2 separate regions of the Homo sapiens genome follow, and region 2 is linked to region 1. The links come from fine-mapping of genetic effects on gene expression. A gene starts in region 1. The other region holds a variant in brackets. All regions are shown on one strand. Distances are from middle to middle.

What was found.
Region 2: its variant is fine-mapped to the expression of CNOT7 in pancreas (GTEx, PIP 0.94).

What each region holds. Positions count from the first base shown.
Region 1 is chr8:17,235,019-17,250,438 of GRCh38, reverse strand. It overlaps CNOT7 (CCR4-NOT transcription complex subunit 7), which reads left to right and starts at 3,582. Exons shown (of 7, transcript NM_013354.7): 1 at 3,582-3,764; 2 at 5,192-5,403; 3 at 7,254-7,447; 4 at 13,066-13,227. The coding sequence starts at 5,287. VPS37A (VPS37A subunit of ESCRT-I) reads right to left here and starts at 3,481. Exons shown (of 12, transcript NM_152415.3): 1 at 3,070-3,481. The coding sequence starts at 3,194. RefSeq lists an enhancer at 2,985-3,833.
Region 2 is chr8:17,178,160-17,193,579 of GRCh38, reverse strand. It overlaps ZDHHC2 (zDHHC palmitoyltransferase 2), which reads right to left. Exons shown (of 13, transcript NM_016353.5): 2 at 8,765-8,791; 3 at 7,155-7,249. Among named protein-coding and RNA genes, the nearest start is that of ZDHHC2, 29 kb to the right of the region's middle. The variant G/A (reference allele first, on the strand shown) is at 9,385.

The DNA.
Region 1 (15,420 bases):
AGGAAAAAACACACTGGAAATTCTTTCAACTTTTACACACCACACCTTTAGAATAACCAATCTGTCTGTTCGCACAAAAATCTTTTAAGTGTAAGTCGTACCACTAATTTAGGTAATCAGGCAACATATTGCCAGTATTGGGGCTCAGAAAACAATACCCCAAAATATTGCACTTTGGTAGGCTGATTACTTTGAATTAAAGGAGTCTGGAGGGCCTCAGAAGTAAAGCTCTCTCTGACCACCTCCTGCCCCTCTTTCTCCATTGAAGAAGTCATAGAAACCAGAATTCCTCCTCCCCTGGGCGGTATATTACAAACTACAACCCTTCTTCCCTACAAAAAATCTAGAAAGGTCACTTTCCCTTCCGCCCTGAAGACCCTCACTCCATATGAGCCCGGGCCGGTCCACTAGAGGAGTAGAAAGTTATACAGAGAAGCCAAGAAAAATCTGAACAAACAGGCCTTGGTGGGTTTCCCCTACCTCTGTCTATTACCATTACCATACTCTTTTTGTCCAATCACATTTCTACATGGCTGTCCATTCTTCATTGAACCTAATCATAAATACAGACAGTTTTCCTTCGGTCTCTGGGGCTTCATTTCTGAAGGCTCCCATGCAGTGTAAAACTTTGATTAAATAAATCTGTTATGCTTTTCGCTTGTTAACCTGTCTTTTGTTACAGGAGGGTCAGCTGTGCCCCTTATGACTGATGAGAAAAAATATCACACCTTTTCCATCTTTACATCAGATACCATACAGACAGATTATTTTTTACCTCCCAGCTTACAAATATATGTCATTATTTAAAAGGGTGGACTAACAAGAATAGGTGAGTGGCATTTTCCAGGATTGTGCCATTCTTTGAAAACTGGAAGCATATGACCTACTTAAGTGTCTCCGGAATTATTCGAGTATAATTTGTAAATGCGAAACATCTCAATAAAACTTCAAGTGTTTTTATAAAAGAACTTAAAACAATAAAATACTTAGTTATTTGTTCATAACACTACAAAATAAATTACATTATCTAATGTAATCATGTCCAATCATACGTTCATAATTTCTGGTTCAAAAAATAATACATAAAATGAATCCTTTCTGTATCCAACTCCGCGTATTTACTGATCCTCTTAAGCCAATTCCAGAACTCTTTACATTAACAATTGCTGCTATAGAATCTCACTTTATTTGGGAGGCCAAAATTATAAATTTCACATCAATTACTTCCCTTACTTACCAGCCTTAGCAGCAAGAGACTTTGTAGTATTTAAAAAATTAAACTCCAACCTCGAAGAAAAAAATTAGTCAGCATTGAAAATATTTAACATAATACTACATACTAAGGTTTAAAAGCAATTAATTCCAAAAGTGTGGTTCTAAAAAAGTGTTTCTGCAATAGCAGGACTGGTTTGGTATATAGTCTACCAAGGTAACAACTTCTAAGGGAACAAACATGTTAAAAACGAGTCCCCTTATTTTATAAGCATACCTTGTGAGAGTAGCTCTTAAAGGTCAGTACAGAACATGATTTGGAGTAAGAGTGACTTGTAAGAACTTTGCGAACTTAATTTTCCAGAATGAAAGCCACCAATAACAGCCTGCCATTCTTTTCTGTTAAACAGCATAAAATTTCACCTTTTGAAAGTTCTGAACAAACAGAACAATTGAGACAACGAACCAAGAAACACCTAAAGTTCAGTCAGCATCAGGCCTTATTTTAGCCAAACTGATTTTGCAGTAAATTTTTCTATTAACTAGACTATTTAATTAAAAATTATTCCATTTTAAATAAGAATTATTCGATATTATCTGAGGATACATATTTTTTAACTGTATGAAAATAATATTTTTAAAAGGGCTAGGAGCCCGGCGAGGTGGCTTATTCCTGTAATCCCAGCACTTTGGGAGGCCGAAGCGGGTGGATAATCTAAGGTCAGGAGTTCGAGACCAGCCTGACCAATGTGGTGAAACCCCGTCTCTACTAAAAATACAAAATATTAGCCGCGCATGGTGGCGCGCACCTGTAATCCCAGCTACTCGGAGGGGTGTGGGGAGCTGAGGGAGGATGATTGCTTGAATCCGGGAGACGGAGGTTGCAGTGAACCGAGATCGCGCCACTGCGCTCCAGCCTGGGCAACAGGAGAGCCGTACCCCCGGCAAAAAAAAAAAAAAAAAAAGGGGTTAGGGACTTAACAATGTTGTCATCTTTATTTAAAATAGTGTGAAACTGTTAAGTAAATATACTTGCAAAATGCATAAAATATAAAGAAGCAGTTCTAATTTTTGAAAACCATTAGAGACCATAGACATTTGCAATGTAAAAGGCTGCAGCAAACCAATTTACAGTAAAAGTTGAAATAATATGAATTGTAAAAATATTTCTAAACTGACCATGATAAAATGAAAAACTCACAGGAAGACAACAGAACAATCAAGATGAACATAAAGTAATTCTTGAGCGTGGGGACAAGACTATGAAAGAAGTGAGAAATGTACATGCACTGGTCGCTGTGAGATGGGGAGAGACTGCTCCAACAGGGTAAATCTTAGAGACTCAAGAAGACTGACTACGTGATAAGTGACTCTCAGACGAGAAGCATTCACTGATGAAAACTCTGGCTTCCCTTTCCTTTGATGTTGCAACAGTTCTATTTTCCATTCTTTGTGAAACCTGGAGATTACTCTTCACAATTGTATTTTAACAATTCTGCTGACGCGGCAATCAGGTGGGCAAAGGGAAAGATCAGTGGCGAAGCCTGGGCAGCAAGGGATACTGGAAATAGACTATGAGAGAGATTGAGAGATTACAGTCAGCAGCTATGTGTCAGGAGGGATGAGGAAATCCGAGTTAGAAGCGCTGAGCAGTGGTGCGGCAGGAGGCAGGGAGGGTCCGGAGGAAAACAGTAAAAGGGGGCAGGAGTGGCAGAGCAAGCGTGTGACCCACAACCAAGGGAGGTAAACCACATGAGGAGCTGGTGGGGAGCAGACTGAGGCGCTGTGAGGGTGGTTAGGACAAGCCCGCCCTCCCACCCTACTTTTTCCTCCGGTGGAGAGGCAGCGACCAGTCACCTGGAGTGTGAGTTCCGGAGGGACTCGATCAGGCGCTGCTTCTGCTGCTGGAGGCTGGTGAGGCCACCGGGGGACCCAGCCGCGGAGGAGGAGGCGCTCTTGGTCAGGGGAAAAAGCCAGCTCATCCTCCTCGGGTCCACGGGCCGGAGGCCCTGGAAGGCTCTGGCCTGCTTCTCCCAGTGGCTCGGCCCGGCGGTTCTCCAGCGACAGAGGAGCGGGGTGGGACGTCCGTGGCCCAAGCGCTGGGGACCGCGTCTTCTCTAAGCCTGTCCTGCCTGCGCTCCCCGAGTTCTGGGGGACATGCTACGAACGGCGGGCGGCTGGAGAGGGAAACTTGCGGCCCGGAACAGGAGGTCCCACCTTCACGGCCCAGACGCCCAAACCGGCCAGCCAGGGAGCCTGGCCGCCCAGCGCTCCACCACCCGCGCCGCCGTCACTTGCGTGCCCCGCCCCCGGGGGCGCTCTCCGCCCCCTCTGCGTGTCGCGTCATCATCTAGCGCCCCCGTCAGGACGTGCGAAAAGCGACGGCGCAGCACGGTGCGGCGCAGCTCCTGCTCGCCTTTCCCTTCGCTGGGCGAGAGGTGTCTATGGGGCACCCGCTGCCGCCGCCGCTACCGCCACCGCCACCGCCACCGCCGCCGAGTGCTGTCTCTATGGCGAGGAGGAGGAGGAGGAGCGCGAGCTCAGCGACACAAGTAGATCTTGCATCCGCTGCAGCCTTACGGGGGGAGGGGCGGGTTAGGGAAGTAGAAAGGGGGCGGGGACGATGAACCTGAGAGGGTGCGCGATGGCGCCAGCTGGAGTGCGGCTGGCGGAGGAAGGAGCCTGGCGGCGGGTTGGGGGCTGGGTAACTGGGGCTGGGGGTTTGTCAAGGGGTTGGCGCGTAGTGATGACGCAAAGGCTTTGTACCTGGGGCTTCGCAGTGGGACGGAAATTGGGAGTGGAGGGCGGTGGCCTAGATCCTCACCTCTTCGTATTGTTTCACGCGGCAGTGCTTGGGAGTCAGTGTAGCTCCAGTCAGTGTTATCAGCACCTTCGCACTGGCGCTTTGCCAGGGAAGAGAGTTATCTATGGCTTGAATACCTCGGTGCCGTCCTCTCGTTTCTCTGGGAAACTGCAGTACGGAGATGCTTTCTCCAGTAATGAGAAGGCCTTTGGTGTCTCTTCGGGGCTTCTGGGACTGCAGTAGAGAGAGAGGTGGAGGAAAACAATGTTAGACTACAGGGTCTTTCCAAGTCTTTGTGTTTTTGTGCTTATGTGTGTGTGTGTGCCTATCGGGGTGGGAGAGTTATAAAGGAGGGGTGTCCTGGATCTCCTTTAGTTTCTCTACTTGGAGAATTGGAAGTTACATTTGTGACTCTTCAGAGTTTAGAAGACAGTCATAAGACCCTCTTTTTACTCTTGTTTTTTTTTTTTCCAATTTGTATGAAAAATGCAGAAGGATTTGAAATTTCCCTGCCCAAGAATCAACAGGAACTCTGTTTATAGACCAGAAATGTGACATCTATCTTTGGTAACCATGCAATATGCTCTAAGTTTTAGACGTTCTATTGTGTTCTTTTTCCGTTCTGCAACTGCGAACATTCAGATAATTTTCATGGCCGTTACTTTTTTCTCAGAGCATTTACAAACATTTTTGACCCCTCTAGTCTAGTTAGAATAAACGCCGGTAAAGTAGATCTTGTTATCAAGTCGGATTTTGGTTGTTTTATTAATGAGGAATAAAAATAAACACCATCTTTGCCATGGTAACATCTGATCTTGTCACATGTAAATAAGTAATTTTTCATTTTTTGTCTGGAAATGGATGGCTTTATAAAGTTTTATGCAGAGTAGTTGAACTCAGATAAATAATTAGTGGAAAGTTATAAAATATGATTAGTATGTATGTGTAAAAAAGCTATTTTAAAATAACTGAAATTAGGACCAGGAAATCTGTACTGTAGTCCTTTTTTTCCTATAGACTAGCTGTGTGACCTTAAGTTACTTTCTAAACTTTGATTTTTTTTTTTTATGAGTCAAGAACTTTGAATAAATAACTTCTTAGGTTCCTGCTGGATCAATTATTCTGTGATTCAGATTTGATATATCTGGTCTTCATATTGTTTTTTTATTTTGACAGGTACATAAATAAAGGATAAAATATTTTATGAAACAAATCTTCAATCAAGTATAACATTTTGATGCTTGGCATCTAGACTCCCTTGTGCCCTCACTATGCCAGCGGCAACTGTAGATCATAGCCAAAGAATTTGTGAAGTTTGGGCTTGCAACTTGGATGAAGAGATGAAGAAAATTCGTCAAGTTATCCGAAAATATAATTACGTTGCTATGGTATGCCCACAAGCAGATCTTTAAAACGCTTCATATAAAGGAGGAAAAGGAAATTTTAAAGTCTTGAATTCAACCCTTTTGGTTGATATTTTTAGGGATTAATTTCACCATGAAAAGTAAAATTTGTCACTGCCCTCCAGCCAAAATCCATCAGGAATACACCTGTGATTTGACAGGTTGGGTTTATCCCTCATTGCAGTGAGGGAAAACGCACTGGAATTCATGGGAACCATGGGCCGTTTGAATAAGAGTTAGGAAGGATTTGGGCTCGTGTCAGGTGGTCTTAGGGGAAGGTAAGGGAAGCAGAGCTTTACTGTGGATTGGATGTGTTCGGGAAGCTGGGGTAATTCTGTGATTGGGTATCTTACTAAGTCTTAAATGAGAGACTAGAATGAGGTTAAAGCTGCAGAGAAGGAACAGTCATTCATTTAGCCAGGATGGAGATACTTGGTCATTTTGTGGTTTGACATTTTTATTTTTTTGTCCTTGTTCAGACATGATTACAGAGTGGCCTTATTTGAGGTTGAACTTTTGTGAAATTGTGTTCAACAGGAGAACATTAGGGCGTGGCTATGAGTGCCAGGTCTGCTCCTAGCAACACCAAAGCCTAGCTGGTAGTACCACATGAGCTCCCAGAAGCTAGGGTGCTCTTTCTCAAACAAAAAAATCAGATGTGCCAGTGAAACGTTGTTGGTCTGCAATTTGTTTTCATAATTAACACTGGAGTTCTGTGAATATACTGTGTTACTAAGCAACTCTGCTTTTGCACGTGCTGTTTGGTCTGCCTAGATTGTCTATCCAGTTAATGATTTTTCTTCTTTACCATTATACTGTCTATATCTGTTAGCTACCCTACTGTTTTCTACATCCACTGGATTATTATTAGCTCCATAAACCAAGTGTTTTAATCCTTTCTCTCCCAACACCTAGCATAACACATATAGTATTCAATAAAGTGGCTGTTGAATTGCACTGAATTTAGAGAAATATTGATTTCTTTACTATTTCATAGTGACTTGATAGGTAGTTTTTATTCTTAGCTAGCCCTAGTTTGAATTCTAATACTAAACCGATGTATCTTTGTCTCAGTATTTTTAATAAAAATAAACAAATGCATTACTTTGGGGAGGAGCAAGTTGATTGGTTAAAATATGACTGTTTCTTTGTAGATGACATACTATTTGATAAAGGTGTACTTACCCATGATTAGAACTAAAATTGTTTTCTTAACCAATGGAAATTCATAGTGATCATTGATTTCTCAGATGATAAAGAGTGGCAACATAGAGAAGTGATAACATCCTACAAGAGTGAGTAGGTGGCATGCAATTCTTGACAGCATGCTTTCTGTGGACTATAGAGAGAATATTGTTTAAGCCAGAGAAATTAGGAAGCTAATGATGTTTTTCTTAGGGTTTTGGTGTTGAGAAAAACCTTGTGTCAGAGAAGCAATTGGAAAGTACAGGGCGTTTTCCCCTCTTTTGAACCAGTTCTTCAAGAAACTTGGTTTTAGCATTGGAATACTGTGAGCATCATTTCATGTATCCTTTGGGAGACAGGAATTTATGATTTTCCCCCCTTTCTTGGTTATAGAGTAAGTATTTGGTTAAATTTATCACATGTATCTCGTATAGTAACTTTTTGGATATATTTAAGGAAAGGTTATTAAGTTTATAGAGTTTTATGGTTCTAAAAAGTGATGTTCTTTCTAGTTAAAATATACTTTGTAATTGAATATAAATGTGTAGAATATCATCTGTAGGATTCTTTGATTTGCATCAAAAATTAAAAATGTGTGGATTGTAGTTTTGACTGTTTAGTACATAATGAATCTTAAAACTATTTTACAGGACACCGAGTTTCCAGGTGTGGTTGCAAGACCCATTGGAGAATTCAGGAGCAATGCTGACTATCAATACCAACTATTGCGGTGTAATGTAGACTTGTTAAAGATAATTCAGCTAGGACTGACATTTATGAATGAGCAAGGAGAATACCCTCCAGGAACTTCAACTTGGCAGTTTAATTTTAAATTTAATTTGACGTAAGTGGGAAATAACTGTATAACCCAGACTTTTTTTTTTTTTTCTTTAATCTTAGGAATTGATTTTCCTCAAGTATGGTGACATGCTAGGTGAATTTGGTGTAGTTATCCTGGAAATATATAAAACGTAACATTTCAAAAGCGTGGTTTTCTTTTTTACTATGGGACCAAAAAAAATACTTTGATGTTAAAGATGTTATATTTAAAATATGACTGCAGCTTTTTTTGTATTTGGAAGACTGGGTATTGAAAGTACTTCTGATAGAAAAAATAATCCTACATTAGTTTTACTTTCAAAAATTTTGTGTGCAATTTGAAATATAGCCTTTTATAATATTTATCCTTCTTGTGAAGATTTTTGTTGCATTCATATTCCAGTTTATGAGTAGATTACATGTCAAATGCAGTAAGACGTTTTCTGGAACCTTGGGTACGTTTTCCTTTCAAGTCAGTATTATCATTAGGTTGCCACTTCAGCCCACAAAAGCTCTCTTAATTTACATATAGGAGAAGTAGTAGTATCCTTGAACCTGGTGTTTATCATATGTCAGAATCTTCATTCTAACTCAAGCCCTGGGTCTTCACCCAGTTTCCTTAGTTATAATATTTCTGTATTATTAATAGAAGTAGTCTTGATAGCTAAGGGAAGTTTTAGATGTTTTTAGAGAGGGGCAGATTATTTGCAAACTAAGTTGGGTAAATAAAATAATACATTCTTATTACAGCAGGACCTCAAATGACATTTTCTTCAACATTGTTTCATGGTAACCTTCATAAAAAATAAAATTGATTCCTGACCCGGGCCACTACCTGAGTGGAGTGTGCACGTTCTCGTGTATATGTGGATTTTCTCCCGGGTCCTCTGATTTCCTCCCACATCCCAAGGCTGTGCACGTTAGGTGAAATGGTGTGGCTAAGTTGTCCCAGTGTGAGTGAGTAGGTGTATCTGTGTGAGTGCACTGTGCCACGGAACGACATGCTGACCAGGGTTGGTTCCCACATTGTGCCCTGAGCTGCCAGAATAGGCTCTGGCTTTCTTCACCCCTCAACTGAATAATGGAGCAAATAATTATCTTGTTTTTATTAATTGTTCTTAAATTTACATATAGCTCACATTTATTTCATTGTTTAATATTAGAAGTATTTTGGTCTTTATCTAGAAGTTTGATGATTTTTTTGTGACCAGAAATATGCCGTAGGAACTTAACTCTTGTTTTTATCAATTAGCCTGTGGTAAAAATTGGTTTCGTTATCCATCTTTTGGCTTAAAGTTGCAATTTCCAAGAACTTATTGATAACGTTGAGTGAGTACTTAACTGTATGTTGCAATATTGCATTGTTCTTCTGTTTGACATCCTACATTTGTGTCATACATCCTAATATCTGGTAGGTAAAATAGTGAAAGAAACTGTAGGCAATTAATGGTAGTGCCAATGTATGAATTCTTTCTTCCTGTTCTTTGTCAGATAAACAAAGATATTTAGTATACACAATTTTACGAAAGTAGGGCTTAGGAAAAGCAGAGTAATGATGCCTGTGGTATAGTAGTGTGGCTTGTAATTACACTGTGTTTAGCCTGACTCTCCATTTCACTCTTTTGGGTTTAATAATATACTCTCCATTTGGAGACCAAGGCAGGAGGATTGCTTGAGGCCAGGAGTTCTAGACCAGCCTGGTCAACATAGACTCTGTCTCTACAAAAAAAAAAAAAAAAAATGAAACTAAGCCAGGCATGGTGGCTGTGTACCTGTAGTCCTAGCACTACAGGTACAGGTACAGGTAGCTAGCACTACAGGTACAGGGAGGCTGAACCAAGTGGATTGCTTTAACTGAGGTGTTCAAGGCTATAGTGATCTAGATTGCACCACTGCACTCCAGCCTGGGCAACAGAGTGATACTTTGTCTCTAAAAATACCTGTATCTATACACACACGCACAGTCTACAGAACCTTGTAAAGTAAACTTGTCCAACCCTTGGCCCAGGATGGCTTTGAATGCAGCCCAACAGAAATTCGTAAACTTTCTTAAAACATTATGAGATTTTTTTGTTGTTGTTTAAGTTAGTTTATTTAATGTGTGGCCCAAGACAGTTCTTTGAGTATGGCCCAAGGAAGCCAAAAGATTGAACACCTCATTTATAAAGGGTGCAAAGTACTCCACTCAAACTGAAAACCTTTTATAAGAACTACATCTGTGAAACACTGAAAATTGCCTCCTATCCTTTTTCTCAAATGATAAACCTTTATTAAAATTAGTGCTTTACCATTTCATTTGTTCCATGTTAACTTTTTGTTCAAGTGAATTAGAACATTGTTTTTAAATTAGATACTATTGTGATCTCAGTACGTGAGAAGGAGGTAACCCATCAGCTTCTCAGTTTGGATAAAATTGACAGTTTCCTTTTCTAGAAACACCTTTGTTCGAGTAACAACTGCTTTCTTAGTACAGCCTGTAAGTGACATTTTTTCTTTCTTACTCAAAAATGACTGCTAAAGTTTACTACCAAGTTTTGCTACCATTTACACTAGGGGTGTCTAATCTTTTGGTTTCCCTGGGCCACACTAGAGGAAGAATTGTCTTGGGCCACACATAAAATACACTAATGCTAACAATAGCTGTTGAGCTAAAAAAAAAAAAAATCTCAAAATGTTTTAAGAAAGTTGACAAATTTGTATTGGGCTACATTCACAGCCATGCCGGGCCACATGTGGCCCACTGGCTGCAGGTTGGACAAGCTTGATTTACACTGATGTTAGGAGATGTTTAAGGAGAAGGATACAGTGAAAAACATTAGGTAGAAGAAGTCATTTGGAAGATAAACGAGTAATGCCTAATATAGAGAGAGCACCGTGAAGAGAATCTTGGAAATTTGGAAGAAAGATCAAAATTGACTTTTTAATGGGGTGGCTAGAATGAGTGTCAGTTACAGTGCTAGACACTAGGGATTTAGTACTGAGGAAAGTTGGTCGTGGTCTTTATAACTCAGTGTTTTGTAACTCTTCTGTTTTCTCTCTATTGCCTAAGTCTAAGAATTACAATTGTAACGTATGGGAATTCTCTCCAAACTGAATTTGGAGTTGATACATCCATGAAAATTGAAGTGGAGTACTGATGAGCTGTGAAGAAGAGAAGCATTCTGTGGAAATAATGTCACTGATAAAGAGGATTAAAACAAATTTTTAACAAATTCTCACTTTTAGGCTGGGCGTGGTGGCTCACGCCTGTAATCCCAGCACTTTGGGAGGCCGAGGCGGGCGGATCACAAGGTCAGGAGATCGAGAACATCCTGGCTAACACGGTGAAACCCTGTATCTACTAAAAATACAAAAAAAATTAGCTGGGTGTGGTGGTGAGCACCTGTAGTCCCAGCTACTCGGGAGGCTGAGGCGGGAGAATGGCGTGAACCCAGGAGGTGGAGCTTGCAGTGAGCCGAGATGCCACTGACTCCAGTCTGGGCGACAGAGTGAGACTCCGTCTCAAAAAAGAAAAATCACTTTTGGTGATTGCAGTAATTCAATAGGATAGTAGAAATTACAGGGCACCTTGGGTTTGGTGGTAACAGAAAGGATGCTGATGCTTCATTTAAGGAAAGTGGCAGTGTAAAGAAGGAGATAGAGAGTGCCATAAGAAGGAAGGCTGGATGCAGTAGCCCATTCCTGTAATCCCAGCACTTCGGGAGGCCAGTTGGAAGCCAGGGTGGGCAGATTGTTTGAGCTCAGTTTAAGACCAGTTCGGGCAACATGGCAAAACCCTGTCTACAAAAATAGAAAAATTAGCCAGGCATGGTGGCTCATATCTGTAGTCCCAGCTACTTGGGAGGCTACAAAAGGAGGATTGCTTGAGTCCGGGAGGTCAAGGCTACAGTGAGCCGTGTTCAAGCCACTGCTTCCTGGATGACAGCCAGACCCTGTCTCAAGAAGGGAAAGCAGAATCAACAGAATAGTGGTTTTTATTTTGTTTTACAGATAATACACAGACATATTTGTGTGTTCATGAGTTAGTTAAGGAGTTGTATGTTAGGATAAAGATAGGCACTTGACAAGTCCTTTGAGGAATGGCATGGAATAGCGTCTAAGGCATTGGTAGCAATTAGCTTTGGCGATGAGGCAAGCTGTCTTTGTAGTCTAAGTAAGAAAGATCTTCACATACGTAGATGTAAAGAAAGACAGGAATATTAATCTGATGTTTCTTTGTAAAGCAGGTATGGGGTGAAGCCATATGCTGCAAGTAGACAGGTGAAGGGTGTTATTGGAAACTTAAGAGAAAAAGGTCTAAACTACTTGTATACCTATACCTTGGCAAATGGCCAAGAATGATGTGCACCTGGAGAAGAATCTGTTTTTTATCCCTTTCATTGCTTATAGTTGCTAAGGCATGCCTCAGTGTGAGCACTGGGACCTGATGAATGAGATTCTAATTTTTTGAGGTACATATTTTTAGCATAGGAAAGCTGTGGTTTCACTGGAAAAAAAAAAAAAAAAAGAAACTACTTCATTGGGTTTATTCTGTTACCCTTCCTAAAGGATTTTCCAGGGGAGACTGACTTTTACGTGATTGTTGTGGTTTCCTTCTCTTTTAAAATATTTCCATTGTTTTGTAATTTTTCAGACATTTAGAAATAAATTGATTTCTAAAGGACTAACCATAACGATACTTTTTGGCCCAAGTGAAGTGAACCCCATGGTTTAGATTTGTCAAGTGTTTAATAGGAATTCCTTTTGCCAAGAGGTAGAAACCAGTATTCTTACAATTTAAAAAGTAAATAAAAAAACACTTTTTCACGTATTCTCAAAAATGTATCTGTATTTTGGTAACTTTTTTGTTTTAATATTTCAGATACAGATATATTTTGGAAACTTTTAATATTTCAGATACACATATTTGTGGTTGGAAATATATTTGAGGTTGGAGATGGCTTTCTTTTTGGCTTAAGTGAAATCTTGAAGAATTGGTTTATATTTAGATTTCCTGGCTTGATTTTATAAGGCAGTCTTTTAGGAATAGGATTGTTGGCAGAAGAAATTATTGCTATTACAGTACAGTCCTTTATACAGTGTTGCTTATTGGAGGCATTTGCAAGGCTCATTTGTGAAAGGAGGCATCTCCTTCTTTAAGATGAAGTGTAGTTTAACTCATCCGCATGAGACATTTTCCACTGGGTCTCCTTACTGGTGCTGCTGAGAGCACGGGAGATGGGCATATGCCCCACAGCTATGGCTGCAGCTCCATCTGGGAGCATTACAGTGGCTGCTGAGACTGAGAGTCTCTGAAAAAACTTGTCTGTCACTTTGCGACGGTAGCCCCTGGTGAATAGGAGACCCTTTTCCAAACCCAGTTAAATGTATTTAAGTATGAAAGGCTAATAGAGTTAATAGAAAAAAGATTAAAATTGCACCTTTGGACTCTCTGAATGATTTTTTATTCGAAACACTTTTCTGAAATAATGACCTTTGTATTTAAATTGCATTTTTCTTGCATATATATAAAGCATTGAAACAGGTGGACTCAAGCCATTCCTCTGTCTCTTTTCTGGCACTGTAGTTATAGATGTAAGCAGAAGAACAGCTTGTTTGAAGTAATGGCATGTTTGAATGTTGTCTTTCTCTTTCTTCTGCCAGGGAGGACATGTATGCCCAGGACTCTATAGAGCTACTAACAACATCTGGTATCCAGTTTAAAAAACATGAGGAGGAAGGAATTGAAACCCAGTACTTTGCAGAACTTCTTATGACTTCTGGAGTGGTCCTCTGTGAAGGGGTCAAATGGTTGTCATTTCATAGGTAAAACGACTACATTGAAAATGGCATTTGTTTTTCCATCTCATACTTGCTCCACACTTACTTGGGTCACTATGTTAGCAATTTCAGGTTTAATTCTGGAAAGAGTTGACTGCCATATAGAGTTGTCTCCTAACTCTTAGGAGGCTAATGTTGGTCTGCTTAAAGGTTAATTTAAAATATGGGATCCATTTTTGCCTGTGAGAAGCATGTTGCATAGTGGAAACAGTACAGGTTCTCTAAAAAGTGAAAGACCCTGGTTTAAATCCAGCGGCGCCATTTGGAATTGGTGTTACCCAGGGTTTTCTTTTACTATTTCTACACCTTAGTTTTTAATGTTCTACGGGGGAAACCATTCACTTACATTTACACAACGTTATTGAGTATTTACCATATGGCAGGCACTGAGATGAGATTCTAGGAACTAAGGTGTGAATAAAACAGATGAAAATTATTTTCCTCATGGAGTTTATATTCTCATGGGGGTGGGCAGACAGTTTTTAAAAATGGAGTTCACGTTGTGATTTGTTAGATAGTGATAAGTACTATCTCAAAACAGCAAAGAAAATGCTAGGGATGGGTGTGGAGATGGATTTTAATTTTTTTTTAAAGTGATAAGGCATCCCTTAGAAGAAATAGCTTGAAGACTTGTTTTAATGGTCACCAAAATACTTTATAAACAGTAAATTCTCAATAAGTGGTGGTTCTAAATTCTTTATTGTTATGAAACTAGATTATTTAAGAGTGTTTCTGGTAAGGAAACTATTCCGATTTTGTGAAATAGACTTCCAGGTATGAAAAAGAGTTTTCCCATCTAAGTAAACTAAACTGACGTTCCAGGGACTAAAAGTAACCTTCAGAATGATATTGGCTTTTGTTAGGTTTTGAAAAAGCATTGTGTTACATAGATGTTAATACTCTCATACTTGGTCCACTTCACACATGTATCTTAAATCTGAGTCTCCTGCATGTTTAGTTTCTGTCTCTGATCTGTGGGATGTTTATAGTGAAGGACTGTTCATGTGGGCAACTTTGATGTGTACTAACCAGAAATGGTTGAGTTGTAGGTACTGAACACACTCATTCTTACCTATCATCTTTTTTGTCTCTTCTGCACTTGAACTTGTACCTTAGGAAACATAACTTAAGACTCTTGATACAAATACCTTTTTTTTAGTCATTTTTCTTCCCTAGATATGAAGGTGCAAAAGAACTGGAAAGTATTGCCCTTCCCTTTTACTGTATATGACATACCCTTTCATTTAAAAAATACTCTGACAAAATACAGTGCACTAGGCACTGGGTATTAAGATGAACAAAAACAAACAGGGTTCATTCATGTCTTCTTGGAGTTTAGAATCTAAGTTAGACTGATATATTTGAATATTTATCAAGATAGAAGATTTTATTCCATTAAATATCATTAGTTGTTTTCCTCATATTCTAATTTCAAGTAATGAAGAATAGTTTAAGAAGTTTATAAATCCTAAGCGCTAATATAATCTTTTAATGTTAGTGAGCAAATGTCATATAGGCTTCCTGTTAGAGGTCCTTGGAAGGAAAGGTAGACAAGGGACGGACGTGTCTAAGTGGCCTGGGAGTGTAGGGAGACAGAAAGCTGTGCGAAAGGCCGGACAAAGGGAGAAGAGTTCTGGATTTGAGAGTGTAGGAGTTTGCATTTTATGATCAAGAGAGTAGTTATTTTTTTACTACCCTTCACTTCTTCCATGTGCAGCATTTCCATTAATAATGACTCTTAGGGAGCCACACTGAAAGGAAGAGAATTGTGAAGGAAGAAAAGGGAGAGACTACTTAACACAGTCATTTAAGAGAAGTGAAAATACCTTGTTACAGTCTTATTCTTTGGATAAAGTATATGACCACCTTATGTAAAAGTGGGATGACTTGCATTACTTTTGTCTACCGAATGCCAGTTCTCTTGCTACCTTTGCTAACTCTTCTGGCCAAGTTTCCATTCATCTTTATTTCTCCATTTCCATAGTTACTTTAAAAAATATTTTGAGACATCTGTGGGCAGCTTGATACTCTTCTTGGTGTTCTCTATTCAGATATCAACAAAATAGTATTTTATTGACCATAGGCTGGTTTGGTAGTGTAGGTCTGTGTTGATATCTCTGAATAATAAAGTGATAAAGTTCTTAATACTGTAAGATGACGACATTTTCTCATAGTTCT
Region 2 (15,420 bases), 57 kb after region 1:
CTGCAGAGCCCTTCAGCCTTGAGCAAACGCAGATGGGGGAGGCAGGCAGTGGACATAATGGGCCTTGGGCGAGACCCAATGCTATCCTGACTTCGGGTCTGACTGAGCACAGTCCCAGTGGTGTTGGCCACAGAGGTGCCATGTCACCCCTCCACCAGCTCCCGGCAGCTCAGCAGAGAGAGAGAGAGGCTCTGTTTGTTTAGAAGAATATAAGGCAGAAGAACAAGAGTCGCTGCCTGGTAATCCAGAGAATTCTTCCAAATCTTATCCAAGACCACCAAGGCAGTACACATCTACCAGTCTGTAAGAACCACAGTATTACTGGGATTGGGGTATCTCCTAATGCAGATGCAGCTTAGATCACAACACCTAACCTGGAAAGCCTTCCCAAGGAGGACAAATACTAAAATGTATATGGAATCACAAAAGACCCAGAATAGCCAAAACTATCCTGAGTAAAAAGAACAAAACTGGAAGACTCACATTACCTGACTTCAAATTATACTACAGAGTTTAGTGTAGGGGAGTAACCTAAATAGCACGGTACTGGCGTAAGACTAGCATTCGTACACAGTAACCAAAATAGCATGGTACTGGCATACATAGACCAATGGAAAAGAACAGAGAGCCCAGAAACAAATCCTTACATCTACAGTAAACTCATTTTCAACACAGATGCCAAGAACATACACTGGGGAAAGGGCAGTCTCTTCAGTAAGTGCTGCTGGGGAAACTAGATATCCATATGCAGAAGAATGAAATGAGACACATATCTCTTGCCATACGCAAAAATCAAAATGGATTAAAGACTTAAATCTAAGACCTCAAATTATGAAACCAGTAAAAGAAAACGTTGGGGAAACTCTCCAAAGCATTGGTGTAGGCAAGGATTTCTTGAATCATACCTCACAAGCACAGGCAACCAAAGCAAAAGTGGACAAATGGGATCACATCAAGTTAAAAGGCTTTTGCACAGCAAAGGAAACAATCAACCAAGAGAAGACACAACCCACAGAATGGGAGAAAGTATTTGGCAACTCCCCATTTGATAAAGGATTAATATCCAGAATGTATAAGGAGCTCGAACAACTCTATAGGAAAAAAATCTAATAATCCAATTTAAAAATGAGCAAAAGATCTGAATAGACATTTCTCAAAAGACGACACACAAAGGGCAAACAGGTATATGAAGATGTGCTCAACATCCATGGTCATCAGAGAAATGCAAATCAAAACTACAATGAGTTATCATCGTACCCCAGTTCAAATAGCTTTTATCCTAAAGATAGGCAAAGGGCAGGTGCAGTGGCTCATGCTTATAATCCCAGCACTTTGGGAGGCCAAAGCGGGAGGACCATTCGAGCCCAGGAGTCTGAGGCCAGCCTAGGCAACATAGTGAAATCTCATCTCTACAAAAAATTAAAAAAAATTAGATAGGCGTGGTGATGCATGCCTGTAGTCACAGCTACTTAGGGGGCTGAGGTGGGACTATTGCTCGAACCCAGGAAGTCAAAGCTGCAGTGAGCTGTGATTGCAGCACTGCACACCAGCCTGGCCAACAGAGCAAGACCTTACCTCAAAAAATACCAATAAAGTAAAATAAAGGCAATAACAAATGCTGGTGAGATGGTGGAGAAAAGGGAACCCTTGTATACTGTTGGTGAGAATGTAAATTAGTACTACTACGATGGGTTTCTCAAAAAACTAAAAATAGAGCTACCATATGACCCAGCAATTCTACTGTGAGTATATACCCAAAAGAAAGGAAACAAGTATGTTAAAGAGATAATCTGCACTCCCATGTTTATTGCAGCACTACTCACAATAGCCAAGATTTGAAAGGAAACTCAGTGTCCATCAATGGATGAATGGATAATGAAAATGTGGTGTTTACTTACACAATGGAATATATTCAGCCACAAAACAAAGAATGAGATCCCATCATTTGCAACAACATGAATGGAACTCGAGGTCATTATGTTAAGTAAAATAAGCAAGGCAGAGAAAGACAAACTTTGCATGCTCTCACTTACTTGTGGGAGCTAAAAATTAAAACAACTAAACTCATAGAGATAGAGAATAAAAGGATGGCAACCAGAGGCTGGGAAGGGTAGTAGGAAACTTGGACATAAGTGGGGAAAGTTAACGGTAACAAAACCAAAAAAGTTAGAAAGAATGAATAAGGCTGGGCGCAGTGGCTTATGCCTGTAATCCCAGCACTTTGGGAGGCCAAGGCGAGTGGATCACTTGAGGTCAGGAGTTTGATACCAGCCTGGCCAACATGGCGAAACCCCATCTCTATTAAAAATACAAAAATTTGGGCCAGGTGCCATGGCTCATGCCTGTAATCCCAGCAGTTTGGGAGGCTGAGGTGGGCGGATCACGAGGTCAGGAGTTTGAGACCAGCCTGGCCAACATGGTGAAACTTCATCTCTACTAAAACCACAAAAAATAGCCGGGCGTGGTGGCAGGCACTTGTAATCCCAGCTACTTGGGAGGCTGAGGCAGGAGAATCCCTTGAAACCAGAAGGCAGAGGTTGCAGTGAGCCAAGATTATGCCATTGCACTCCAGCCTGGGTGACAGAGCGAAACTCCATCTCAAAAAAAAAAAAAAAAAAAAAAAAAAAAGAATGAATAAGACCTAGTATTTGACAGCACAATAGGGCGGCTACAATCAATAATAATTTAATTGTACATTTTAAAATAACTAAGAGTATAATAGGATTTTTTGTAACACAAAATACAAATGCTTGTGGTAACTGATACCCAATTTACGCTGATGTGATTATTACACATTGCATGCCTGTATCAAAATACCTCAGGTACCCCATAAATATATATATCTATTAGGTACTCACAAGTTTTTTTTAACTACAAAGAAATTCAGAATGTAAAGTGCTTGAATTGGTGTAACGGATTTTTCTCTTTTTTCTTTTTGCCTAGTCTTCATTTTCAAAATATAATTTAGTGCGGTTGTATTACTTTTATATTGAGAAAATCTTACCAATGAAAAACTATTATCACTTTAACAATCTTGCTATGAAAAGGGCAAATTTTAATTCACATGTTTTCAGTTCAGGATCCTCATTTTACAAGCGAGAGGTCTCTAACAGCTGATCAATTAAAAGAATAGCCCAAGACCTTGCGTTTTATAAAGGGAATATTCTAAGGTTCTTAACCACCAGACAAGGGCTCTTTCTTCCTAACAGTGGTCTCCAAACTCTTTTGATCATGTTCCCCTAACCGTAAAAAATTACGTGAGATCACACTGCTAACAGATGAGTATTTATTGGTATATATTCTTTTCTTTTCTTTTTTTTTTTTGAGACGGAGTGTCGATCTGTCGCCCAGGCTGGAGTGCAGTGGTGCGATCTCGGCTCACTGCAACCTCCGCCTCCCAGGTTCAAGTGTATTGGTATATATTTTATCAGCTAATAGCTTATGTACCTCATATACAAAACTTTAAAAAATAAAAATATTAAATGAATAATACGTAAAAAAATTTTTGCTATTTTTCCCCCATGCTTCAATTGAAGTCCTGGGCACTCCCACCCATTGTGCTTGCTCTCCATACTAGAGCATGGTGTAGTGAAAAGAAAGTGTCCTTAAGGGTTGAAAGGACTTTTGGTTGAACCTTAGCTCTCCCACACAGTAGCACTAGATACCTTAATTGTTTCATGTTCAAAGCCAGTGGCTCCATCTGTAAAATAGTAAAAAATAGTATCTATCTCAAACAGTTGTATGACTAAGGTACGTCTTTTGTAGAAAAATCACACAATGAAGCCTGATACCGTTATAATGTCACTGTCATCGATTTGACTGCTCCTTCAATGCTGTGTTCTTTCTTCCGTGTGTTTCATATCCTTTTGCCACTCTGTCCAATCCACTATTTCAAACCTTCTCTACTCTCCCAACCCTTAATTAACCCACTTAGGTCTTCACTGTTAGCCAATGATGTCATATATAATTTTAGAGAGAAGTTAGAAGTCACTTCAACTTCCTGCCAAGGCCATAAAAATAAACCTGCATGTGTATGAATAACTTCTTCCCTACTTTTAGTCACTTAAAAAGTATCTCTTGAGTACCTTCTATAGGTCAGACACTGCTTTAGGCACTGGTGATGAAGCAGTGAACAAAGATACATTTCACGCCCTTATGGAACCTACATTCTAACGATGGTGTATTTTCAAAAGTATTCAACAAATAAATATGCAGTGTGTTGCCATGATGGTAAATGTTATGGAGAAAAATCCAGGAAGGTAAGGTGCAGGGAAAGCCGAGGGTAGTGGGGTTGCTATTCTATGTTGAGTCATCACAGACAGCCTCAATGATAAGGTACCATTTGTATAAAGACATCAAAAAGGTGAGAGATTTGCCTTGTCTTTTGAAAGGATCACTTTGGCTACTGTGTTGAAAATACACAAGAGGAGGCCAAAAAAAAAAAAAAAAAAACATAACAAAACACCAAAAAAAAAAACCCAACAAAAAGAAACCTGTTAAGAGGCTACTGCAAATCTATAAATGAGAGAGGATGGTGGCTTGGACCGGGGTGGGAGCAGGGAGCAGTGCGGCACATGAGTTCACATTGTGGCCATACTCTGAGGGTGAGGGTATAGAATTTTCTGATTGACTAGATGTGGCGTCCGAGAGAAAAAGAGTAGCCAAGGATGACACCAATGTTTCTGGCCTGAACAGAAGAGTGAAACTGTCATTACTGACATAAGAAAACTTTAGGACTAGAAGAACTGGGGAATTAAATGAGAAATCAGAAGTTTGTTTTCAGTTGTGTTGAACCTGAAATTTCTATTAGATGTCAAATAGGGAGCTGGAAATGTGTCAGGCGTTTATTAGCAAGCACCAGGCTAATATATTAATCTGAGAGCTGCGGCACTGGGGTGACACATAAAGTCACAGAACTCAATGAAATCCACGAGGGAATAAATGCAGGTATATAAGAAGAGAAGTCCAGGGATTAAGCTCTGGAACATTCCAATGCTTTGGCAGTCTAGGAGCTGAAGAGGAACCAGCAAAGGAGGCCAAGAAGGAGCTGCCAGTATGAATGGAAAATAAATATATTATTTCCATGAGAAAGGGGTAAGAATATTTTGGAAAGGAAATAATGCCATGTTGTATACAGGAAACTATGTGTAGTTAAGAACTACTAGAGTATAAAGTATAAAGTCAGAAATTGAGACAAGAGCTGCTATTGCTAGGCAGAAGAGACTGAGCTTTCCCCTGTGGGATATATGGAATCACAATAGATACAAGCAGTAGAGGGAAGGCGTTACATTGGTTTTTAGGAGGACCACTCCAGCTTCAGGGTATTGGATGAAGTTTTGTGGGGTTCTGGGAAGGAAAGGTAGGCCAGGCTGTAAACAGAAAACCTTAAGATGGTTTTCCAGTATGACCAGACAAACATTGCAAAAAGTAGATGATAGGCCATTAGGCACACAACTAAAATGAGAGAAACATAATTATCATTATAATATGCAAGTACAGACTAAAATTATGGTATTCACAAATGATCTGCTTGTTTTAAAATAACCAAATTACCAGGAGAAGAATACAATATCTCAGACAAGGGAGATGATGAAGACCCAGAATTAGAGCAGTGATAAACTGCCCATTAACTGACATAAGAAACAGATGACTCACAGTCTGGGGAAGGAGAAGGTGATGACGTCTGTTTTTGATGTTTTGTATTTGAGATGTTGGTGGAATTATCAAGAAGCTATGCTTGGCAGGGGGATACATAAGTTTGAAATTTAAGGGGGAGTTTAGAACTCAAAACAGATTTGGGAGTTATCAAAACAGAGGTTGTATGTAAACTACCAGAGTGGATGAGACTACCTATGATAGAAGTCAGTATTTTTCTTCAAACCTACTACTAGGGACAGGATGAGGGTAAGAGAGATGATGGAAAAGAAGCAAATATGGTAGGAGGAAGGAAAAAAAAAGACTGGGATAGAAAAAGAAGTGGAGAATAGAAGAAAAACAGGCAATAGATAGGCATTCTAAGCCAGGCATACCATTAATTCTGCGCAAACATCTGTGGTTTTTACCATCCTCTCCCAAGCCAAATAGCATATTTATTGGCTTTTTTGACCAAAGTTGCATTTCAAACTGATTACTTCAGTAAACAGTCTACAGTGATGCTTTTTTTTTTTAAACTTGGCTTACTAAAACTACACTGTTATTAGAGTTAGCAAAGTATATTTTTATTCAACAATGTACTGGGCTATACGCCAAGGATACAAAAATGAGTGAGACACAATTCTTTGCTCCAAGAACGTTTAACCAGGATGCATGATCCAGAAACAAACAGAATGATCTTTTCAACATGCAAATTTGATCCATCACTCTACTTAAAGCCCTCTGAAGCAGAGATTGCTAGTTGTCTCTCAGTAACCATATTTCTCTTCTTCTCTCATGTTTAACATGGTCATCGAGAAGAAAGGCTACACTCCCCCCTTCCTTGTGGGTAGATGTGGCCATATAACCAACTTCTAAATGTAAGTGGAAATGACGTCAGCAATGTCTAGAAAGTGTTCTTGAAGAGGAGGACATTTACTTCTCTTTCCTACTTTCTTTGGTCTGCTGGCTACAATGTAGATGTGATGGTTGGAACCGCAGAGTCCCCCTTAGACCAAGAGGGGACCTTGGAAATGGAGGCTACACGTGGCAGAGAAACAAGATAGAAGGAGTGTGGGCACCTGGAAGCTGTGGACTAGCTACAGACTTTTTGAATGCAGAGAAGATTAGCTAAGCCATTATTTTGTTGTTGTTGTTTCTGGTGGCTGATAACCAACTAATACACCTTTAATGTGATAATTATCATAGAATTATGTCTACCTTCTAGCTCTATTTTATTATCTATCTTTGTCTACCTATCCATCCATCCTGATGTCTGACTCTAAAGTGGAAATGGAATTCATAACAGATTCAATACAGAAAATGCAGTGCTTATCTGGTGAAAACACTAATATTTCCAGGTGAAAATTCAAGTATTTATTAACAGAAATACTAATTTTTTTAATCTAAAAAGTCACTAAACTCAATAAGTTTGCAACATTAAAATAAAATTCGTTCTTCAATAATACATCAGTATTATTGATTTCTATTATTAGAATAATTTCGTTAATATTTTAACTTACTTCTTTTGAAGGATTCATTGGTAATGTAAAGATAGTTTTCCAGTATGACCAGACAAACATTGCAAAAAGTAGATGATAGGCCATCAGGCACACAACTAAAATGAGAAAAACATAATTATCATTATAATATGCAAATACATACTAAAATTATGACAGTCACAACCGATCTGCTTGTTTTAAAATAACCAAATTACCAATTATAATACATTATGAAAGTTCCTTTACTTTATACTAGAATAAACACAACTCAACGAATTTATTTCCAAAGCCAAGAGTTTTTTACAAAAATTCCTAAATGCATAATGAGATCTATGCCCATGAATAAAAGCCTCCCATCTGTAGACAGACCATCTATTGGCAAAATCACTAACAAGGACCTTTTCTAAATTGTAAAAATGAGGCAGTTACGCCTCCAAATTTAAACAGCAAACACAGCATTAAAAACAAGTGTTAAAACACTCAGGCTTTAAGAACTTTGCTTTACTGACACAGATAACAAAGGCAGTTCCTATTTGAGAAGCTGTTTGCTTATTTGCTTGGCTCTAGTCAAAGCTGGTGTAATGATAACACATTTAAATGGAGAACATCTGGACAAAGAGATTTCCTTCAGTGGGAGTTCAAGTGTCTTATTTATTACATGGGACAATTGTTTTAAAAAAGTGTTCTGAATACTTTTTTCAGTAATGCATATAAACACACTCTGGGTGGTGTTATAAAGTCTTGAAATACTATCCAAAATTTTCTTTTCTTTTCTTTCCTTTTTTTTGAGACAGGGTCTCACTCTGTCGCCCAGGCTGGAGTGCAGTGGCTCACTGCCACCTCCGCCCCCTGGGGCTCAAGCAATCCTCCTACCTCAGCCTCCTGAGTGGCTGGGATTACAGGCATGCCCCACCTCACCTGGCTAATGTTAGTATTTTTCTTTTTTTTTTTAAGTAGAGACAGGGTTTCACCATGCTGGCCAGGCTGGTCTTGAACTTCTGACCTCAAATGATCTGCCCGCTTTGGCCTCCCAAGGTGCTGAGATTACAGGCATGAGCCACTGTGCCCGGCCCAAATTTTAAATATTAATTTTCTATATGGTGATAATGCTTCCTTCTGGGTAATACATTAATACACAATTTAATTCTGTAAGATATCATTGAATAAAATATGCTAATTTAAATATAGCATATTTGGCATTTTAAAACTTTAATAGCAATTTTAAATTTTTCTAAAGAATGAGGATACTCATAGAATCATTAAAAATTTGAATTATTCAATAAGGCACTTAAATCGGTGTGAGATGACTAAAGCCAACAATATTTTTCATAAATTATGTAGGTGACTCAGTTATAAGTTCATAATCTGAATTAGGAAAGGAAATTGTTGATATCCCTATACCTCAAAGCCTTAAGAATCTCTGGCACAATGACAGCCATTTCAGGATAGAATTCTTTGCCAAGGGTCTGACAGAATTCAATCTGCAAACTTAAGAGAAATGAGACATCTTTAACCCTAGCTTGTCTCCACATTCTCAAACAACAATTTATTAATCCCAACCAAATCTAAGTGAATACAATTTTTTTTCAAACTATTTAAAAAATCTATAACATTAATATAATCTAGCTTACCTTGTTCGCCAGTGTTTTCCATGGACACTGTAAAGAGAAAAAAAGGTAATAGGTTACATGAAGCTTATGGCAAACGGGGCTTGACACAGACATAAGGCATTTAAGTAGCTTAATAATGTGGCTTCCCTTCAAACCAACATTCTCTAAATATTTATTCAACTTTATTTGGAGGAGAGGTGAGCACAGTGTGGAGAGGGTGCAGGAAACGGCTGGAGGCTGCAGTCAGCCATGCCTCCATTGCGCACTTCAGCCCTGGCTCCTGTCCTGCGGAACAAAACTTGTCAAGTGTGCCCCTTGCGGGTCTTATTTCTGTATCATTTGGTTGACTGGTTTTCCTTCCAACTATAGAGTTCAGATAAAAGCAATGCTCTCCAGGTCATTACATTTCCGCAGGCATTTATTGCTCTTGATAAACTGGCAACCACCTGGTGAGCTTTCCACAAAGAATAAAATGTGTCCACAGCACACACTTTTTTTCCCCCTAATTTCTAAAAGTACAAATGCTTATGCACAGTGACTTTACTTGCTCCCTGTTGCACAACGAAAGGCCAGGCAGTGCTGGGAAACTGCCACTCCTCAGCGGCTGTTGTAAATATTCCAAGCTAGCAGGTATTATAGAT[G/A]AGGACAGGGGCCACAAGCACTAAAGCAAGCTGCGGCAAGAAGTTGTATTTAGTAATCAAGACATATGTACGCCTTTTGTATTGTCTATTTGTTTTCCCATTTGGTCTCTCTCTTTGTACTAGAGTCTTTGGAAGTTTTGCCCTATCTCAGCTGTAGCAAGTCTGACTTTGTATATTTTTGTCCTTATTCAGCTTTTCAAAAGGGCACGGGACCTCAGGCCTTGGTGCTGGAATGAAATGCGCTGCCTTCTGAAGCCTGGAACCAGAGGGTAGTGTGAGAAATTTTTAAGATTGCTCAGTCCAACCAATCTCCTGCCCAAGAGAGCTACCAAATATAAGTTCAGGCATTTCTAGAGCTAGCAGAAGCCCGTAGTTTCTTGGAGGGCAGCCCGTTCCACTGTTGGATTGCCCTAAGAATAAGAAAATTCATCCTTCCAGGGTGTTGAAATTGGCTGCTTTGTGACTTTTACCTGTGATACTGAGGCTTCCAAACCATAGCAACAAACAGAAGATCTAAATGACAGATCTTCACATATTTGATGTTATAGTGTCCCCCTTAAATGTTCTAGTTTACACCAACTAATATATGGTTTCCAGATCTCTTACTAACGTAGATGTGGCATCTGTAAATGCTTCCTAGGTTCTCCACTCCTTTTAACATTTCTGATCTCCAGAATGAGACAGGCAGGCCTGGATGACCTTCGATTTACAAATGGCCTGTTCTCCAAGTCCGCTTGTAAGTCAGAGGCTAGTCAGAGTTTGCTTTCTCATAGAATCCCTGAAGCAGCTCATCTGAGGGCACAGGAGAGGCTTGAGGCAAGCCTGTTTTTTAATATCTGAACCTACCGCCACAGGTATGCATTTCTTTCTAGACACTGACTACACCCTGTCTTCAAAAGTGCTCCAAAATTGACAACTCTTTTCTGGATCAAAATTTCCAATCCTTCAGTGGAGCCAATCTAAGGAAAGGAAAAGCAATTTGACTCCATTTGTGCATTTATATATGAATGACCCTTACTGACCATTCCAGAGGTGCTGGTGCTTGCATACAAATGTGTTTGCTACTCCACTGACTCGAGTGGAGAGAACTGAAAACTAAGACAAAGTGACATTTTTGAAAAAGGTATAGTTAGGGGCTGGGCACGGTGGCTCACACCTGTAATCCCAACATTTTGGGAGGCCAAGGTGGGTGGATCACCTGAGGTCAAGAGTTCAAGACCAGCCTGGCCAACATGGCAAAACCCCGTCTCTACTAAAAATACAGAAAATTAATCAGGTGTGGTGACACGCGCCTGTAATCCCAGCTACTTGGAGGCTGAGGCAGGAGAATCGCTTGAACCCGGGAGGCAGAGGTTGCAGTGAGCCAACATCACGCCACTGCGCTCCAGCCTGGGCAACAGAGTGAGACTCTGTCTCAAAAACAACAACAAAAAAAAAGGTGTAGTTGGTACGAGTTGCTAATCTTTTTGACCTGGACCACTACTCTATAAGCCTGATATGCATTCAAAGACTTTGTTTTTAAAGCTATTATTATTATTATTATTATTGCCATTCACAGTTTGCTTTTCCCTAAATGTAATTCAAAATCCACAGATGTTCTATTTTTTTAAAAGTACACAACTTACACATAAATTCATCTTTATAGTAAATAATTGTGTAACATTTGTAGAATGAAAGGGATCAGTTCAAAAGGCTGTATCCAATTACACTTTCGCCAAGATTATGAGCCGGTTCAATTTCCTGTAAACGTAACTCTGTTTAATTTTTGTCGACATCATAGGCCTAAATAAAAATCATTATTTTAGCATTCATTTCCCTTATTATTAGTGCAGTTTGGCATTATTTTTAAAACACTATGATTGGGATTTCCTTTCTCTTCTATGTGAATGATTATTTTCCTATTGGCCTACTTAGTTACTGAGAGCCTTTTATATATTCTGGACAGAAATCTCATATCTGTTATATATATATTGCAAATAAAACTGCATATAGCTATTTTAAATGATTTAATAAGTACTAGCAACATTTTTATCACTTGCCACTGATTAAGTAACATTATCAAAGTTTGCAAATTAACTTATTTCATTAACAGATATATGGACTATGCAAGGTTTTGCTTTGTGATACTCAGGAAATGAATGTTCTTTCAACCATGGTTACTTAATTAGTAAATCAGTGATTTACCTTGTAATTTTCAGTTTAATGGCAGAGTTGTCAAGTTCAAAGTTTCCTTTCTCACAGAGTAAAAACACATAAAATACAAAGTTATTGTCAAATGCAAATATTTTTGTTCAAAAGTAACTGTTCAAGAAAAGATTGCTCAAATTTAGCCTCAAACACTTTTCTAATATTTATGTATATAAAGATAACATATGAAAAATAGAGACTCATTTTTGAAACAATATAGATGGTAATCAAATATAATTTGATTATTTATAACAATACAAAAACTAAATAGCAATACTGAACATAATTGGGACAGGTCTTCTAAAAATAACTATTGGTTTTAATGTGGATTTTGAGTTTTAATCCAGGATTATTTAATTTTCTTACTTCACAGACAGAATTTCAATTTGTTTGATTTAACAATGATGCTGATACCTATTCTTCAATTTTTACCATAGAGAAATTTCAAGTGTTGTATAGCCTTCTTTATCTCATTTCCTTTAAACCAGTTATTGAGATAAATTAATAGTTATTTCAATTTTTGTCAACAGAAAACTGAGGTTTACTCAGTTTTTACTAAAGCAAATGAGCTTTATTCTCAAAGTCACGACGAATAGCACATTAATTCTACCTTAGAAATTCTTTTATTTTCAATTTAAACATTTCCTGCCTGTAACAAAAACGTTACAACTTCCAGCTCTGCTGGATCATATTAAAATTAATTCCTCATTAAAGCACAAGAACTGGCATAGAGCATCTGCCCCATTAATGTTTACTGAGTAAGAGACTGACTTAGACAAACAGACCATGACAACTAATTTGAATCACATAAAACTGGTATATCAAAGCGGACATATGAGAAGTATTCATTTTTCTTTTGTGGGCATGAAAAACTCAAGAGAAAAGTTATTTCTATTACCATGTTAGCTTAGCACACCATAGCACTCAACTGATAGTTGAAAAAAGCGAAAGTAATCTCTTCTGTGAGGTGAAGAAAACACTTCTCTAAAGAGAGGAGAGAGGGAGAAGACAAAATGGTTCCTGTTCCTTTAAAAAGGAAAAAGCTGAGGGAGATACTGGCTTCAACTGGGCTTCAAGCAACTTTGAAGACAGACAGGGTCTATAAGTTCACAGGGTTCCCTCCACCCCCAGCTTGGTTTTGGTTCTTCCTTAGTATTGTACTTTTTTATAGTTGAATTTGTCAAAATGGAAAAGAGATTATTACTAAGCATAATAGCACCAAAGAGCAATGGCTGGGGATAAAGAAGGCAAGGTCCAATCCTGCCTCTGCCACTTGCTGGCTTACATAAGCTATCCCACTTATTCCACTACAAAATGAGGGTGATTGCTGCAGCAGTAGCATTAGGGCTGTAGCGAGAATTCAAAGGGACAATAAAACAATGTACTTAACACAGTGCCTTGTGTAGAGTAAGCCCCATGAATGTACAATTATAATATATCATCTTTCATCTTGATAATATTAACTGTAATGTATAACGTATAGGAAAGGGGGCTAAACAAGGAAGACAAATTACAAAGAGAAAAGTAATATTTGTACAGGCTCCTGAAAGAAATAAATGCAAAATGTTGAACAAAAATAGACTTGGCGAGTGAAAATAAAAGGTGAAAAATAATGTAAATCTGAATTATCTTATAAGTCAATTGCCTTTTTAAACGGATGTGTCATTTCAGAAACTTGTTTAAACCAAAAAAGTGGTCTTCATTCTTAACACAGAGTAATGATGAGATGTTAAAACTTCGATCTTGATGTGCCAGTTAGTCCTTTTGAGAACTTAAATGTGAAAGAATCTATTTTGGATAGGCACTGTTTAACTTAATGAATAAAAACAATTACTTTAAAAAAAAATAAAGACCTAAATCTTATAATCACCCCAAAGAAGTTAGGTGCAGTTTATTCCTGGGAATTAAAAGCATTGCTATTATTACACTAAAATATTTACCAATCCTACATCTGGTGGATGGCACCATTCATACCATCTAAATACACACAATAGGAACACTGTGAATCACAATTTTAATTTTAATTTCAAACACTTATTTGCCTCATTTTATCTTGGATTAGCCTAATTTCTTTTTGGTCCATGCCCTACAATGATAATATTTTGCTTTAGCAATTTCTAATCTTCCAATATACCTCCAGAACTTCAAGTTCCTCTGTGATTAATTGTGGGAACTGCAGCACTTTCTTGGCCCTGACGGTATATAGGAAGAGAGAAAGTGAAAAAGGTAAATTACTACTATAGTTACCAAGAATGTTCCTGTTTGCCAAAAGTAAAATTATGGCCTTCAGGAATCACATTTTGGGCTGGGCGGCCCACGCATGAAATGCCAGCACTTCGGGAGGCCAAAGTGGGAGGATCACTTAAGGCCAAGAGTTGGAGATCAGCCTGGACAACACATTGAGACTGTGTCTCTACAAATAAACTTTTTTTTTTAGCTGGGTGTGGTGGCACTGCCTGTGGTCCCAGCTACTTGGGAGACTGGGGGCAGGAGAACTGATTGAGCCCAGTAGTTCAAGGCTGCACTAAGCTATGATCACATCACTGTACTCCAGCCTGTGCGATAGAGTGAGACCCTGTTTCTTAAAACAAAAAGAAGAAGAAATAAAGAAAACAAAAAAAGAACTTCATCTTAAAATCTAGAACCATCATCGATGCTACAAAGCTTGTAGATTGGGTCACCAGTTGTATTATCTGGCTGCGCTTTACGCTCACCCCCTCCACCGCCACTGATCATTCCCGTAAGAAAGACAGGACAACCAGGCACAGTGGCTCAAACCTCTAATCCCAGCACTTTGGGAGGCCAAGGTGAGAGCATAGTTTTGAGGCCAGGAGTTTGAGATTGGCCCGGGCAACACAGTGAAACATCATCTCTACAAAAAAATTTAAAAATTAGCCAGGCATAGTGGTGCCCACCCATGGTTCCAGCTACTCGGGAGGCTGAGGTGGGAAGATCACTTGAGCACAGGAGGTCGAGGCTGCAGTGAGCTGTGATCCTGCTACTGCATTCAAGCCTGGGCAACAGAGCGTGACCCTGTCTCAAAAAAAAGAGAGAAAGAAACAGAGTAGGACAACATATAAAAAGGCTGAACTAATCAGTCCTCAGTTTAGAATTGGTAAGACTGATAAGAGTGACAGTTTTTTGTTATAACATTAATTGTTTTTTAAGAAATCCTTGTGTAAAAATAAAACAGGTAAAATTGAAGTTAAAGAGTGAGACTGTCAAAGTAATAACCCATAATATAGAAAAGGATGACAAACTGCTCCTTAATCCAACCTGGCTTGAATGAAACATCCTTTCAAATGTATACCTCCCTTATCTCTTTTGACTGAACTACCAAGCAATCATTTAATCCTAGAACCCTTGGTCCAAACACAGCTAGATGCCTGTTTCTATAAATAAAGTTTTATTGAAACATGTATGCATCCATTCACTTACATGGCTACTTATGTGCTACAATGACAGAGTTAGGTAGCTGAGACAGGGAAAGTATGGACTGCAAAGCCTAAAATATTTACTGTTTAGCCTTTTATGAAGAAAGTATTCCAGCCCTATGTATTAGTCAGGGTTCTCCACAGAAAAAGATTTAATAGGATGTGTGTGTATGTGTATATATAGATACTATATATTAATATAGTCTAGAATGATTTATATATATTAATTTAGTCTAGAATGATTTAAATTCAACCTTGATTAAAAGCAGGAGATCATCTCAACGGTTATTCCACTCGTACATTTTTTACCAATTGATTATTTAAAAATTGGCTTTGGTGATTATTATTAAAGTGTTACTGTCCTAAATGGTATCTAATGAGATACAGCAGCCTAGTAAACTGATGGTAACTTAAA